Regions from separate parts of the Homo sapiens genome. Here region 1 is linked to region 2. The links come from fine-mapping of genetic effects on gene expression. A gene starts in region 2. The other region holds a variant in brackets. All regions are shown on one strand. Distances are from middle to middle.

Region 1 (8,336 bases), 78 kb after region 2:
TGACACTAACTTCCTGGAGTTAACACAGACCCCAGAGGTTAAGGGCTCAGTCTCACAAGACTGCCCCCTTTTCAGATGCCAGTTGCAAGTCAGGGCCTCCTGTACTTCTGACTGATTGGCTATAACTCGGGGGTTCCCATCACACCCTCCCTCCTCATGTTTGATAATTTGCAAGAATGGCTCACACAATTCAGGGACACCCTTTACTTACTATTACTGATTTGTTATATCGGATACACATGAACAGCCAAATGGAAGAGGTGCACAGGGCAAGGTATGGGGGGGCAGCATGGAGCTTCCGTGCGCTCTCCAGGCCCACCACCGTCCCCCCACCTGGAAGTGTTCACCAACCAAAAACCCCCAAACCTTTTCACTTAGGGTTTTTATGGGGGTTCCATTGCATAGGCATGGTTGATTAAATCATTGCCAATTAGGTCAATTCTCAGCCCCTCTTTTCTCTCTGGAGGCTGGGGGTTAGGACTGAAAGTTCCTCTAATCACATGGTTAGTTTCTCTGGCCCCCAACCCCCATCCTCCAAGAGTCATCTCATCAGCATAAATTCAGATATGGTTGGAAGGTGCTTATTAATAACAAAAAACACTTCTCATCCCGATCACTCAGAAAATACCAAGAGTTTTACGAGCTCTGTGCCAGGAACTGGAGGGCAGAGATCAGATATAGCTTTCTTATTACCTCGGTATCACAGTTCTATCGATAAAATTGCTCCTGTGGATCAAGATGTTCAGACTTTTAAAAAACTAACTTTAAAGGCCGGGCGCGGTGGCTCACGCCTGTAATCCCAGCACTTTGGGAGGCCGAGGCGGGCGGATCACGAGGTAAGGAGATCGAGACCATCCCGGCTAAAACGGTGAAACCCCGTCTGTACTAAAAATACAAAAAAATTAGCCGGGCGTAGTGGCGGGTGCCTGTAGTCCCAGCTACTTGGGAGGCTGAGGCAGGAGAATGGCGTGAACCCGGGAGGCGGAGCTTGCAGTGAGCCGAGATCCCGCCACTGCACTCCAGCCTGGGCGACAGAGCGAGACTCCGCCTCAAAAAAAAAAAAAAAAAAAACTAACTTTAAAAAATCTAGAGCAAAATTTGCTAGTACATTAAGAACTTTAGTGTGGAATTTCTTTGGTATAGAAACTGTATGAGGGACAGGAAACTGACCTCCAACTCTGTGATCATTACTCTCTGATAATTTGGAAATATGGAATAAAATTGATATGCCTCAGAAAGAGAGACCAGCAAAATCACCTAAAGAAACCCACTGTGTCCCAGACCAGCAAAATCTGAGTGTTCATGAATACATCTTAAGATGTCTGTAATGGAGCCCATCATTCCTTCACCCAAAGTCTGTTTCTCCCCACGCTTCTCTGTGTCAGAAATGGTTCCCTTTTCACTCAGCAGCTTCAGCCAGACACCCAGGCAGCCTCCAGAGTCTACACTGCCCTCCTGCAGTTTTCAAATGATCACCATCCAGTCCGATCCTGTTTACCTCTAAGAAGATCCCAGATCCATTCATGTCTTACCATCTCCATTGTTACCCCCAAGCCCAAGCTACTTAAAGCTAAACTAATCAATATTAAACTAAATCGAACGCTTGTTTCTGTCTCCCTAGCTGCCTTTCAAGTGCTCAGTAGCCACATGTGGCTAGCAGCTATCACATTGGACAGAGCAGACATGGGACAGCCCCATCATCACAGAACATCCCACTGAGCAGCACTGCTATCCTGAAAGCAAACACACTGCTATCCCCCCAACCCAACACACTGCGCATCCCGGTGGTCTTAAGCAAGGGTCCAGGAGGTTTTAGGGTCAAAACCACAGTGTTTGGTGGCAGCATGGGGGCACAAATTAGAGAAAGAAAGAAAAAACACTTCTAGACTGGCTTGAAACGTTTCCTTCTGTTTTCTGATCCAAGGTGTCTGTGGTTAGGCCCGGGATCTCCATCTTCACCTAAACCTCACGTGCTTCACACAGAAGTGGTCTGGGAACCACACCTGAGAAACATCAAACTAGAATATCATGAAAACAAGTATGTTCTTGAATATTAGAGCTGTGATTAGATTTACAGTAGCCCTTTTTGCTTCAAACTATGTTCCCATAAATATAGAATCCCTTTAGTTTTATATGTTGTAAACATAAATTTTACCAGTTAAACTAGTCTACAGAAAGTTGGATATACAAAATGAGATCACACTACACTGTGCTTAATTTTTAAAATTTACTTTTTTCAATTAACACATAATGAATTATATGTCAATAAATATATTTGTAACATTTTAAGTTGGATATACACATATATATGTAATTAAGTCTTGAACACAGGCAGCTTAGTTGAACACAACTTGGTTCACAAGCTCCAATAAAGAGTTTAACTTGTGCCCATTCAAGGTGACACAGACGTGCAGTTTTGAATTGCCTTGTTTAAGTTCCCAGCCTCCTTGCCTTCGCCCTTCGGGGGACAGTCTGATTTCCTGAGCCAGGCGTCTTGGCCACCCTCGGGCCTTTGCCCAGATCCTCCGCACTGAGGTTTAGCTCATGCTCCCTGTGCTAGGGCAGCAAGCCTCAGTGGGTACAGCGTCTACTGTTGATTGACCTCTGCCCGCTCGGGTCCGCTGGCCAACAGCGCATGCGCTGCCTCTTCGGCCTCCTCCGGCTGGTCCGCAGACTTCTCTACCTCCAGAGCCCTGGGCTACCGGTACTGAGCGTGCAGAACTCCTGCCATTGTGGAGGCTCCCTGCGGGCCCCCTGCTCTATTCTATGCCACACTGGGCTTGGGCTTGGGCTTCCCTATAAGGCTTGCTGCCACCTCTCGAGGGATGAGGGGTTGCAACCGGATGCTTCTGTCTCCAGGGTTTGGGGCCCTTCGGGAGCTAATGTGTTTTAAGCACTTACTACGGCTGGCATTTTTCTTTCCTTTTTTTTTTTTTTTTTTTTTTTTTAATCCCGAGACAGAGTCTCTCTTTATTGCCCAGACTGGAGTGCGATGGCGCAATCTCGGCTCACTGCAACCTCCGCCTCCCGGGTTCAAGCGATTCTCCTGCCTCAGCCTCCCTAGTTTCTGGGACTTCAGGCGCACGCCACCACGCCCAGCTAATTTTTGTATTTTTAGTAGAGAGGGGGGGGTTTCACCATGTTGGCCAGGATGGTCTCGATCTCCTGACCTCGTGATCCGCCCACCTCGGCCTCCCAAAGTGCTGGGATTACAGGCGTGAGCCACGGCGCCTGGCCAATTTTTTCTAAGTGTTGTACATTGTTTCACTCATTTAATCCTTTGAAGAGGCCTGTGAGATAAGTGCTAGTATTATCCCCACTTAGGTGACAAACGGGCTCAGGTGGGAGAAGTGACTTGCCTGTCATAGCTCTTGAATGTTGCCTAGTGTGTTTGCCATGCGTAGTAAGTCCTCAGTGGAGAGTGGTGGTGGGGCCAGCGGGGATTTGACTGCCGCATTCTTAGCCTTAAACAAATAAGCCCTTCTGTCAAGGAGCTTGATTGCTTTTGGCTGTCTACCAGGTAGAAATGCCACCATATTACTCAAGGGGCTTCCAGCAGTCATCCATCGGGGGCCAGGCGGATTGGCTTGTTGTGTAACACAACTCTAGAGATCATGTCAAAATGATCAGATTTGTCAAGGCTTATGTATAAGCCCAACAAAAACTGGAAATTGTCACTTACTAGGATCAGAATTTAAAATAATACATCTCTGTCCAAAAATAGATTCTGAATCAATGAATCTTTCCATTAGTAGGCTTCTAATGCAAAGTACTAGAACAATTTTTACATGCAAATTAACTCCTTGAATTACCAGTTTGGTATAGAAGTAACTTCTAAAGTGAATGTAGCACTTTCTGTTTCAGGTAAGTACATAAATGTTAACCATCCAGTTTCACAGCTGGATAAAAAAAAAA[AT/T]ACAACATGTAAGAAAAACATGAGTGGGAGAACCAACTAACTCTGATACATGTATACTTGTTTTATACACATGCCTTTTAATGCTCATAGCACTTGAGAGCTAAGGAGTTCTCAGATCATCTAGTCAAGCTCCTGTAATTTGCTGTTGAGGAAGCTGGGACAAAAAGAGGTGAGTAGCTGCCCAGAGGTCACTCAGGTAGTGCCACGGAGCTGGCGGTCAACCTAGGTAAACACCATCATTGAGCGGAATGCACAAAAAAACTTCAGACAGCTCCCCTGCCGGGCCTTCGCTTGTTCAGCCTAAATAGCTCCTTCTGTGGCTCCTCCCACCGCCTCTTCATACTCCTTAAAATGAAATAAATGTTCATAACTAAACATAATAGTCCACATGTGGTCTGTCCCATAAAATATTTTAATTGAAGTACAACATACATACAAAAAATGCACATGTGTGTGCACATTGGTGAATCTTCACAAACCTAACATAACCAGCTTTGAGATCAAGAAACAGAACATTACCAGCACCCCAGAATGTATGTGAACACATGTTTATACATATAAATAAATATACATCACAGATTTCATATAAACACAGCAGACTACAGTAGCTCTCGAAGGCAGCTTCATCACACTATTGACCCAAGTCAACTAAAAATCTCTAACTTCCGTCTTCCCTAGCAGCTGTGTCTGTTTAATAAAGCTTTACCATTTAATCTTTTTGCCTCCACCAAGTGTCATTTAATTAATATTGGTCCATTCTTATAGCTGTTTTCTTTTGTATTATAAAATCTGATTTTCATCCATTATATTATCACCCCATTTATTTTGTGTCAGCCTATAAGTGATTTCTGTTAAGATTAATCCAATAAGAAAAATCACCTTATCTCAGGCTTACTCCAGCCTTTACACCTCCAATTTTTTTCCAGAAACACTCCTATCATTATAACAATTAATATTATATTTCTGTTTGTGATTTTAAAAATTATCATCTATGAACACTTGTATTTTAAGAGCCTTAGAAGTAAAATCTTGACTTTGTAATCCTTTTATTACAAGAACATTTTCATTAAAATAATCTTCATTCTTCTGTTCCTATGCAACTTGACCCTTCTTCTTTCCCTTTCTGTATCTGTTAGGTTTCTTCTTGCTCTCCCTTCAGGGCAGCGTTAACCAATACTCTGATTTTGGTAATGTGTGTGGGTAGGAGCACAGCTCTGGCCCTCTGAGTGAGATGCTAGCTTGACCACTGAGCAGCCTGGTTTTGTGCTCCACATCCTTGGGAGACCAATAATACTGAAATTACATGCTGGCACATTCCTTCCAAAAATTACTTGAGCAATCGAAATGCCTTAGATAAGAGGGGAAAAAACTATTTTGTCAAATTCTTCCCTTCGGATAGTATAAATGCACTGGATTCTTACATAGTGACGTGCCTTTTTCCAGTAGTCTAGATTGTTTTTTTCTTTGCTTTGTTTCAATTCAGGAGGTTCGCATGAATTAGCATGGCCTATGTGACAGTTGCACGTGGTAACTTAAGATATGCAGGTCTAGCCACAACAGGTAAAGCATGATGCCAGTTCTTTACACTGGTAACCAGATGGACATCGAATGCTAGAATTGCAAATAATTTTTATATTTAAAATTGCAATTATATTTTTAAAATAAAATTTAGCTTTAAAGGTTTGAGTTTTAATTTAATATTTGTAAATTATAATCCACACACTGCCTTTAATTTTAATAGATCATATTGAACACTTTAAAAGTAAAAATTTTTTTAAAAATCAAGTTTAAAAATGTTTACATTTATTTAAATTTTTAAAAAATATATTCAGATTTGGTATATTTTTACTACAATTACATCTTTTTAAAAATTCTTTTTAATCCATAACTCATGATAGAGCACAAATTCAGTAAAAATCTTGAATATAACCACATTAGTGATTTTGCTGAAATGAAGGCAAGAATGATACATTTTAAGGAATTAATGTGATTTTTGAATCATGCATATCTTTATTACTCTGGCTGATGTCAGAGCCTATTGAGAACACCAAATGTGTAATAATGATTAAATGCACTGGTCTTAGGCATTTTGCAAACTTTTGAATATGTTAAACCTGTAGCTTTACACATGTTCCATATCCATTTTTTTTTTCTCATGAAGATACATTTATTAAGGTAGGAAGACAGGATATGTTTTATTTGACAATGGATTTATAACTTCCAAGTCTTTAGATACGTGATAGGTGGGTCCGTTTATATTCTGGCCCTGGACCCTCAAAATGTTTCAGCTGTGCTGGAAGCGGGCTCTATCTCTCCTTTCTGCTCCTCTCTCCATCTGCAAACCTGTTCTCCCAACGTGGTGGGTGCAGGGCTACTACCAGTGTTCAGCTTTGCATCGGCGACCCAAAGACAGCCCATCCTTCGCAGCTGTAGTCCCAGAATCCCAGGGAAAGGACTCGTGATTGGGCCAGGTTAGGTCAGGTGACCACTTGGACCAATCCAGAGTGCCATAGGGTAGACGCATACGATACCCTTGGTTAAATCATAAAAGGGATGGTGATTTCTAGACTAACCATCCCTTCACTGTATATTATACTTTGACAGAATGTAATTCCTTTATTTGAACAGACCTCTCTTTTAGTGGTTTCAAGTCATGCATTCACTTAATGTTTCTTTTCTTATTGTACATAATTTCCAGAGCTAAAACTTTCCAAACCTAGGTTACAAGGAAGACAGTCCTATACCCCAATTTGCCTGATTTATGCCTGCTGTCCCATTGTAATTATTAATAGTGCCACTTTCCATTCAAAAGTATCCTGGTTTGGATAATCATTCTTATGATGCCCCTGACTGTAAGTGAAAGTTGGTGAGTGTGAAAGTTCACTTATATCCCTGTTTGGTCTACATGGCGCCTTCCTCCCAGTCCCAGCCATCATTTGGACCCAGCAACTACTAGAGGCCAAGCTGTGTCCTAGATGTTGGAGATATAGTTGAGTAAGACAGTAACCCTTTCCAGAAGGAACTCACAGTCCTAACAGGGGAAATTGTACAAATTAGGTCATGATACAGCCTAAGAAATCTGGGTAGGAACAGAAGAGCAGGGAGTGGCTCTGCCTGGGGAGACTGGGAAAGACCGCAGAGAGGATGCAACATTGGACCGGGTGACGTGAACTTCCCAATTGCTGACTTTGGCATATTAGAATATACCTCTTATTTTTATTAGCTACATAATCCAAGGCTAAGATGTTTGTTATTCATAAAGCCCACAGATGATTACTGACTTGGGAGAATCCCATCAGAGATGCCTTTATGACAATGAAATCAGGCCACTTCATCCCCAGGGTGAGTCTTGGAGTAGGCGTCTCAGGTGTGCATGCAGGTATCAGAAGAAAAGAGGGGGAAGTGCTTGTGCTATATGTGAACACCAGAACATCCTCAAGTCCCTGGCAGAGGGAACTGCAGGATTCCAGAGTCAGGACTCCCTGATGCTCTAGAAGGAGCTGGAGTAATGACCAGCTGTAGAGTATTCAGTCAGGACACGTGGGCTCCAAAACCAACACTGCTGCCTACCCCCAAGCAAAGGATTTAATCTCTCTGGCCTTACTTTACCTGGAAAAGGAAAGCGTGAAACTAAGTCATCTACAGTGTTTTATCCAGCTTTACAGTTTTGATATGTTGTATAGTGGGCCAATTACAAATTCTTAAGTTTTCTCTAACTGATTAGCCAATTTGAGAAGATTCAGAAAAACCACAGTTCATTTAAAATAGTTTTTCCTTTTTCATGCTTTTGATATAACCACAGAGGCTTTTATACTGATAAAGACTTGTCAAAGGATCTCTGCATTTTGAATCCAGTGTGGGAGATGTAGGGATAATTAGAGAAACCAGCCAAGGAACGCTGGCCAGTACAGGTGCAGTGGCTCATCCCTGTAATCCCAGCAATTTGGGAGGCCGAGGTGGGAAGATTGTTTGGGCCCAGGAGTTCAAGAGCAGCCTGGGCAGTACAGCAAGACCCTGTTGCTACAAAAAATTAAAAAATTAGCCAGGCATGGTGGTGCACGCCTGTAGTCCTGGCTACTTGGGAGGCTGAGGTGGGAGGATCACTTGAGCTCAGGAGTTCGAGGTTGCCATGAGTTGTGGTCATGCCACTGCACTCCAACCTGTGCGACAGAGCAAGATCATGTCTCAAAGCCAACAAACAAACACATAAAAACTGGCCAGTGGAATAATACAGTTTCTGGCTCTTGCTTTCCCCATACCAGACTGTCTTGGTCACGAGAGCTGAAATAATTTCATAATGTAAACTTTGCTGTTTTTTCCTGCCTCTTTAGAGTAAAAAAGCAAAACTCAGAAGCACTCTCAGGAAAGCTTTTCAAATTCTTTTTTGTTCTCTGGCTCCCAGTGACAAATACTTACTCTG
Region 2 (8,336 bases):
TCATCCAGGCTGGAGTGCAGTGGCGCAATCTCAGCTTCACTGCAACCTCTGCCTCCCGGGTTCAAGAGATTCTCCTGCCTCAGCCTCCCGAGTAGCTGGGATTACAAGAGTGCGCCACCACGCCTGGCTAATTTTTGTATTTTTAGAGAGATGGGGTTTCACCGTGTTGGTCAGGCTGGTCTTGAACTCCTGACCTCGTGCTCCGCCTGCCTTGGCCTCCCAAAGTACTGGGATTACAGGCATGAGCCACCGTGCTAGGCCGAAAGTACTGTATCTTTAAGCGTACTTATAATAAATTGTGAAGAGCTGAAGCAGCAGGATTGGTTAAAAGCAAGGGACACATGATATATTAGAGGAAAGTCAGAGAAACACAGAAAGGCAAGCTGGGAGGAATGGCAGTGAAGAAACAAGCAGAGCAAAAGGAAAGGAGATTGGGATGAAAAATACACGTGGGCGATCAGGCTGAGGATCTTGCTGACTCCAAGTTCGGCAGGGAAGAGACCAAAGTATATATGAGTAACCACTTAGAAACTCTGGAGATTATGTCACAACACATGGTCTAATGTTTAAAAACTTCTTACTTTTTGTATCTCAGAGGTTGGAGGGCCTTTAAAATAATTCATTGCTTCATGGTTTAATTTTTTAGTCTGGCATCAACAAAATGATTTTCCCTGAGTCGTGCTATTATGGCCTAAAGTTTAGTATGCATTAGCATGATAGCGACAAGGCCATTAGACACTCTGTCTCATTATGGAATGACTGTGGACAATAACGAATCCATAAAGTACTGTGCCACCATTCAATATTCCAAATATAACTCCAAAGTCCATCTCTTGGGAGAAAGAGTATCATGTTAGGGAACAAAGGGGAGGGGGTAAGTGAATGTTGACCTAAACAGCTATCCAATAATTATTTTGCCTTTCCATAAACAAAATAAACACCTGCTGTTTAGCAAAGGGATTTTGTTAGCTTAATGCCAACAAAAAGAGATTTTTTGTATTATTGAAGACTACTAACTAAAATGCATATACAAATACCAGCTTTTCTTCAGACCATATTCAGTTATGTGGTTATCATCTTCCAAACTGACCATTTAATTGGACCAGTCCAAAAGTTATTAAGTTTAGACCACATATAAGATCTTGTTCTCTTCCTCCTACCTGGATGGCCAAGCATATGCTAATCTAAAAACCTGGAAGTGATACATTTATTCAACAGACATTTACTGAGTGGCTACTAAATGTCAGTCGCTGTTCTGGGTGATACAGCTACATTAATGAATAAAACAGAGAGAATGTCTGTCCTTGTGTAGCTTACTTTCCAGTAGGAGAAGACACACAACATTAAGTCAATTATATACAAGATTACAAGAAGATAGGTGCTATAGAGAAAGATAAAGCTGGGAAGCATATCATACTTTTCAATAGGGTAGTCAGAGTAGACTCTCTGAGATGTTTGAAGGAGGTAAGGGAATTAGTCACGCAGATACCTGATAGAAGAGTGCTCCAGGCATTGTGCAAAGGCCTTGAGGAAGGAACCTGCCTGGTCTGAGAAACACCAGGATGCCAGCGGGACTGCCGGTAAAATAAAGAAGGGAAAGAGTAGCAGGAGACTCCATAGGGCCTTATAAGCCAGTTCAGGGATTCAGGCCTTAACTCTGAGATGGAAAATCATCAGAAAGTTTTGGTCAAAGAGATGATATGATCTAAATTACATTTTTAAAGGATCAGTCCCTGGCTACTGTGTGGAGAGAAGACTGAAGAGGTACAAGGATGATGTAGGGAGACCAGATAGGAGTTACAACAATAGTTCAGGTAGACATCATGGTGGCTTGGATGAGGATTGTAGCAGCAGGAGTAGTGAGAAGTAGTGGATTCTGAACATAATTTGAAGACAGAACAGGATTTGCTGAATACCTGAATATGGGATGTGAGAGGAAGAGTAGAAATAGGGATGACACCAAGGTTTCTTGGTCTTAGGAGTTAAAATGGTAAAGTTGCCATTAACTGTGATGGGTATATTTGAGCTGTCTATTGAAATCCAAGTGGAGAAGTCAAGTAGGTAGTTGGACATTTAAGTCTGGAGTTCAGGGAAGAGGTTCAGGGTAGAAATATAAATTTGGAAATTGTCAAAATTTTGACGGTATTTAAAGCCATGAGACAGAATGAGCTCTTCAAGGGAAAGCATGCAGACAGAAAGAGGCACGATGACTATGCGTTGGAATACACCATGATTAAGAGGTAAGGGAGGTGAAGCAAAAGCAGAAAGGAGATTGAGGGGTAACAGCCAGTGAAGTAAGAAGACAATAAGAAGAGCACTGAATCCTGGGAAGCGCACACAGCATTTCAAGGAGGAGGAAGTAATGAGGTAAAATGCTGCTGATCATTAACTGAGAATCGACTACTGGATTTAGCAAAGTGGAAGTGGTGATCTTAACAAGAACAGTTTCTAATGAAATGCGGGTGGGAATGTGACTAAAGCAGGTTCAAGAGAAACTAGGAAAGGAAATAGACAGTACAAACATATCTTAGAAGGTCTGCTTTCTAATTAAGAAGAAAAAGAGCAGAAGCTAAAGGGGGAAGTGGCAGCAAGTGTATTTTGTTGGTGGTGTTGGTTTTTTTTTTTTTTTTGATGGAAGAAGTAACAGTATGCATGCTGGTGGGAATGATCCAGCAGAAGGCAGAAGAAGACAGTACAGTAAAGAAATAACAAATGCTAGTATTGGGTTTATGTTGTTGCAAACCTGGTGGAAGTTCTCTTCTGTTTTCGCAGTGGCTCATGCCTGTAACCCCAGCACTTTGGGAGGCCGAGGTGGGTGGATCATTTGAGGTCAGTTCAAGACCAGCCTGGTCAACATGGTGAAACCTGGTCTCTACTAAAAATACAAAAATTAGCCCGGCGTGGTGGTGCAGGCCTGTAATCCCAGCTACTTGGGAGGCTGAGGCAGGAGAATTGCTTGAACTTGGGAGGCAGAGGTTTTAGTGAGCTGAGAGTGCCCCACTGCACTCCAGCCTGGGTGACAGAGGGAAACTCTATCTCAAAAAGAAAGAAAGAAAGAAAAAAAAAACCGAAATAAGATTGCCAGAAATCATGAAAGGCCTATATGAGGTTAATCGTCACAAATTTGTTTTTCCCCAGCAACGTACTGCTGCATGGGTACAGGGACAAGACCAGGCAATATGTTGGATTTAACAAGGGTTGACATTTTGACAAAAGAGGGAAAGTACTTGAGAGAGGAACAGGAAATTGAGGTTGTATGCATCAGAACGTTATGTGGTTGGCAGATTATACAGGTATACACTCAGTTTGTCAATTCTCTTGTATATTACTACAGACCATAATTTACTAAAGAGATTAGAAAATCACAAGATCTGAAATGGGACAAAAATGTACTGTCTATTCTGTGACAGGTTCTTTGCTAATTAATACCCCCAAAGAACCTCCAACTTTGTAGACTCTTTAAACATAAGATTATTCTCTCTGCCGTAAAATAAAGAAGGGAAAGAGTAGCAGGAGACTCCATAGGGCCTTATAAGCCAGTTCAGGGATTCGGGCCTTAACTCTGAGATGGAAAATCATCAGAAAGTTCAAGGTATTCTACGAACACCTTGAAATGAGAATTTTTACTTCCTCACTTTTGGGTTTTGTACCACCAACGTCTAGCATAGTGCTTTGTACACCGTAGACATCCAATAACGACAATTGATGAAACCTTTAAAAAGCATCGTAGGTGAATTCAACATGGGTTGTGGAGGGTAAGGATGGTACCATCTCTCTGTCAAAGGGAGAAGAGCTAGAAGGAAGTAGCTTTGGCATGAACCAAAATGTCAACCTAATTGATCTTTAAATTTCTCTGCAAAATGCCCACATCTACCTCTGTCTGTCGGTCCGGTCCGTTCGCCGGCTTAGGTCATATCACCCAAATATGCCCCAGTATGAGAAAAGCGCTGTCGGGTAGCTGAGTTCTCTATCAGTACAGATATTCATGCAAAGATCCCGGGCGGGAATGTCAACTACCGAACTAAAGACTGTATCAGAGGACCCTGCTCCTCGCGGTCCCCAAATCCCGCCGCGCCATTTTCTTCTCAAGGGCACCCCACACCTGACAACTCACACAGATGGTTATCTTCAGCACACCGTGGTTATAGTCTCGGTACAACTCTTTGGCCTCCTGGTTGCATTCGATGCACCTGTACTGGCAGGAGGCCGAGGCAGCAGTAGGAGTCGCTGCCACCCCATCCACGTTCCCCTTCCCCTGCTGCAGGCCGCTCCGCCCGCCGTTGCCCATTTCCACTCAACTGCAGTCCAGAACTTCCGATTCTGTGGAGGGTAAGACGTCAGACGCCAGACCGGAAGACTTGCGCCGCGCGGGCTTATTGGGATTCGTAGTCCCGGCACCGGCAAGGCGGCCCCGGGCTGGCCGAGCTGGGACTACCATTCCCAGCACACAATGCTTCTCCCCTTGTCCCGCCCCCTTGCCACGGTCCACCTGCCCGCCGTAGGTTAGAGGCGGGGAGGCCTGAGAGCCGGGCAAGGGCTGTCGCGCATGCGCCTTGAGGGAAGATGGCACCTGCCGGCTGCTGCTGCTGCTGCTGCTTCTGGGGCGGCGCTGTGGCCGCCGCGGGCGCCGCCCGGCGTGTCCTGCTGCTGCTGCTGCTGGGGGTCCTGTCCGCCGGGCTGCGGCCAGGCGCCCTGGCCACCGAGCACTACTCGCCGCTCTCCCTGCTCAAGCAGGAGCTGCAGCACCGGCAGCAGCAGGAGGCCCCGGCGGGCGGCGGCGGCTGCAGCCCGCAGTCCGGGGACTGGGGGGACCAGTACTCTGCCGAGTGCGGCGGTGAGTGGGCGGCGGCGGGCGTCCGAGTCGGCCGGGGCGGCGGGGCAGCGGGGCTGGGGTCCCGGGCCGGGGTACGGGTCGCCCGGGCCTCACGCCTCCGGCTGCGGCGCGCGATCCGCGGGAGCCGGCTCGGCCAGGGGTCCTGGCGGGCAGCTTCCCGCCGCTGCCACCCACGCCGCCGCGCGCCCTCCTGCAGCCGCCTTTGGGCAGGGCGGCGAGTCGAGAAATGAGCTGACAGCATGCTCCTGGGGCCAGGGCGGCCTCTCTCCTGAGTCTGAAGCAACTGTTGGAAGGGTGGCGGAGGAGATGGCAGGTGGCCCGGGGCAGCCCTGTTCCCGCCGCCGGCCTCCCGAGGATGCCGAAGGGGCGAGGGAGGGGCGGGCGGACGAGCAACCAGCCCGGCGGCTTGCGGAGCCCGCCCCCGGAGGGAGACGCCTGGCACATCTTAGGCCTGGAAATCAGGCTTCCTGACCTCCCGGGTTAATGTCTCGTATACAACAGTTCCTAAAAATTGGATCCCTGGAATGGAAAAAAAGAGCAAGCCCATCTTATCTGCTCGTTGACATCTTGCTTCCAGTTGTTTAAGATCAACCTGCGATCTGTCAGGTGTCTCCCAGAGGGAAAAAAGGCCCCTGCAGGCCTTGAGCCTGTGTGTCAGTGCCGTGTGTGTATTGGAGCTACGCCAGCTCATTCATTAAGAATGGGCGCTATTGGCTTCAGTTTAATAAATCATAGCAGATGCCTCTGGGACAAAATACGTGTGTACATTTTTTTGTTTTGAAGTTCTGTCGTGGGTCTTTTTACCCATCAATCTCCTCCCTTTCTCTTTCCCCCTTCTCTATGTGAGTTCCCTTATGGCTTGCTTTGGGAAGGACCGGGGTCTACCGAACCCACTGGGAGATGGTTGCTTTTAAGACTTGGCAGTGGTTTTCTTCGGCATTGTGTACCTGGGAAAACAATACCTTTTTTTTTTAGTTGAGATGAGACGTCAAGATTAGCACAATCTGATTTCCTTTTAGTACAGTCTGACTTCCTTGAGGAAGTGTCACTCACTGAGAGGTTTGTGACTTTTTTATTTTGCGGTAGGCCTTAGCTGGTAACGGCGTAAGTAACACGGCCAGCCTTGCACGGTGGAGAAAGAATGGCATTTACTTACCTCTGTCACTTTCTGTATCTCTGAGCAAGTGAATTACCTGTCTTTGTAAAATGCCTCCTCTGTAAGTGGAAAACACTGTTCACCTAATTGTGGGGTTTTATTTTCCTCACGAGGGTGCTGTGAGGGAAATGAGAAGTAGCCGACATATATTGAGTGCTTGCTGTATGCCAGGTGCTGTTATAAGTGCTTTAGGTCTATGAGCCTAGTATATTAGTCTATCAGAAAAACAATAACCACCTCATTAGATGGTGGCTCATTTTCTCAGATGAACAAACTGAAACATAGTGAAATTGTCATCTTCTTGAGATCCCACAGCTGCCAAAGGAGGAACCCATGAAGTCGGGCTCCAGACAAAGCCTTTGTCCTAACCATTAAGTGGTTGTAGGTAGGCAAACCACATCTGAAGTATTTACTTGCATATGGTGCATGTTGGGTAAATTTCCCTTTCTCCTTTGCTCATGTGGTGCTCACTGGCTAAAGGAGCCCCAGCGTTTAGACAGTAGAAGGTATGTATCGATTAATACTATGATATCTATTGGTATCATTGATGTTGGTGGCTTATTTGATTCTTTGGCATCAGGCTAACCACCAGTATTTAAGAACCCTGTTCAAGCCAGCTCTGACTTGTATTACGATATTTCCCTGGAGGATGAACACTGTATCATGAAGCTGTAAACATAATTTATTTAGATGTTTCTACCTTCTTTTTCTCTCTCCCATGTAGTACTTATTTTTTCTAGCTTGGAATTTAAAATTTACTGTTGCAAATGAACGACCTGAGTCTTTCAGATCACCTCCCCTGGCTGTGTGAGTAGCTACCAACAGGTGCTAAAGTGGGGCAGCTGCCGCTGTGGTCACCCAAGAAGTCATTTCCAGAATCAACTACTTGGAGCTCCAGCTGTTTCCCTCAGCTTTCCTGGCTGCAGTATGCGACAAAAGCCAACTCTGTTGTTGTAGGGGCTACTGAAATACTTCTCATTTCTCCCTCTTCGCCCTGGACAACTATGTAGAAGCTGGACCCTATGAAACCTGTTTCATTTCTTCTCTGTCCTAGGATGTGGGGATGAATTCGGGATTTACAACTAACCGTGCCATAGCCTGAGGGGCAGCTGATGCTCTGTATCCGGAGACCCATTTGAGCAACATTAGGGTCTAGACAAATGTCAGGATCCAGAACTAGTCAGTTCTTCAGAATCATACAGACTTGGCTTTACTAAGCATTGATCATGCCATCGTCTCTTGCTTGCCTGTCCAGCCACAAACCTGTTCATATCAATCCAGCACATATACTGAGGACAAACACAGCAGCACAACCACTTTTCAGAATCTTTCCCACAGCTTTCAGGTTCAAATGGCTGAGCTGATGCCTGCTTGGGTCTAAATTTAAATCTGCATACCTTCTTACAAGCAGTATATGTATTCCCTTGAGACAGAACCGCCAGTGATTGTACATACAAGGACAGTGGCTGGTGGGAGCCCACCAATCCAAAGACAACACACTAGCAATGGCTGGCCCAGCTATGCACACCACCGTCACATGGCATCCATGTCCCAGGGAACAGCCTAATGCTCAGTGGGCTGAGCCCCACCCAGATCTACTGCAGAAGTGACAGGCATGGATGTCCCTCTGGTGCCATATGTCTCAGCTTGAGCTTTGCATGTTTCCTGATCCGCCCTTAATATTTTCTACTCCACATTTTTACATTTTACCTTTTTGATATTTTATTTATTTTTACCTTTTTACTTGAAAAGCATATAACCACAAACTTGTCTTCTCTCTTTGTTTACTTGTAGAGAAAAAATATTATTTTAAAAAAATGAACACTGTATTGTACATATTTTAAAAATAAAAGTAAATTTCCTGTTGCCAAAGCCCTATCTTTAATTTGTAACTGTCGGAGGAAATGATGAACAGAAGTATTTTTCCAATTCTTTCCTCACTTTTTTAGTTATATTGTCATAAACACTCTGCAATCTTTTTTAATCCTTTTGATACTGAAGTAGGTGCTGTTGTTTTTTCTATTTTTTTAGAGACAGGGTCTTGCTCTGTTGCCCAGGAGGTAGTTCATTGGTGCTGTCATAGCTCACTGCAGCCTTAAATTCCTGGTTTGAAGCCATCGTCCTGCCTCAGCTTCCCAAGTAGCTAGGACCACAGACGTGTGCCACCATGCCCAGCTATTTTTTTTTTTTTTCTGTAGAGACAAGGTCTGGCTATGTTGCCCAGGCTGGTCAAACTCCTGGACTCAAGCAGTACTTCCACCTCAGCCTCCCAAAGTGTTGGGATTACAGACGTGAGACACCGTGCCTGGCCAATGCTGTTTTTAATCCCCATTTTACAAACTGAGA

What was found.
Region 1: its variant is fine-mapped to the expression of TTC13 in whole blood (INTERVAL, PIP above 0.99). The same link has a PIP of 0.9 or more in lung.

The regions. Positions count from the first base shown.
Region 1 is chr1:230,897,000-230,905,335 of GRCh38, reverse strand. LOC105373167 (a long non-coding RNA gene) reads right to left here. Exons shown (of 4, transcript XR_949264.3): 4 at 7,115-7,525. Among named protein-coding and RNA genes, the nearest start is that of C1orf198, 33 kb to the right of the region's middle. RefSeq lists an enhancer at 2,662-3,163. The variant AT/T (reference allele first, on the strand shown) is at 3,916.
Region 2 is chr1:230,975,058-230,983,393 of GRCh38, reverse strand. It overlaps TTC13 (tetratricopeptide repeat domain 13), which reads left to right and starts at 4,533. Exons shown (of 23, transcript NM_024525.5): 1 at 4,533-4,834. The coding sequence starts at 4,564. It overlaps ARV1 (ARV1 fatty acid homeostasis modulator), which reads right to left and starts at 4,300. Exons shown (of 6, transcript NM_022786.3): 1 at 4,115-4,300. The coding sequence starts at 4,288. RefSeq lists an enhancer at 4,069-4,368 and silencers at 4,649-4,908, 4,929-5,218.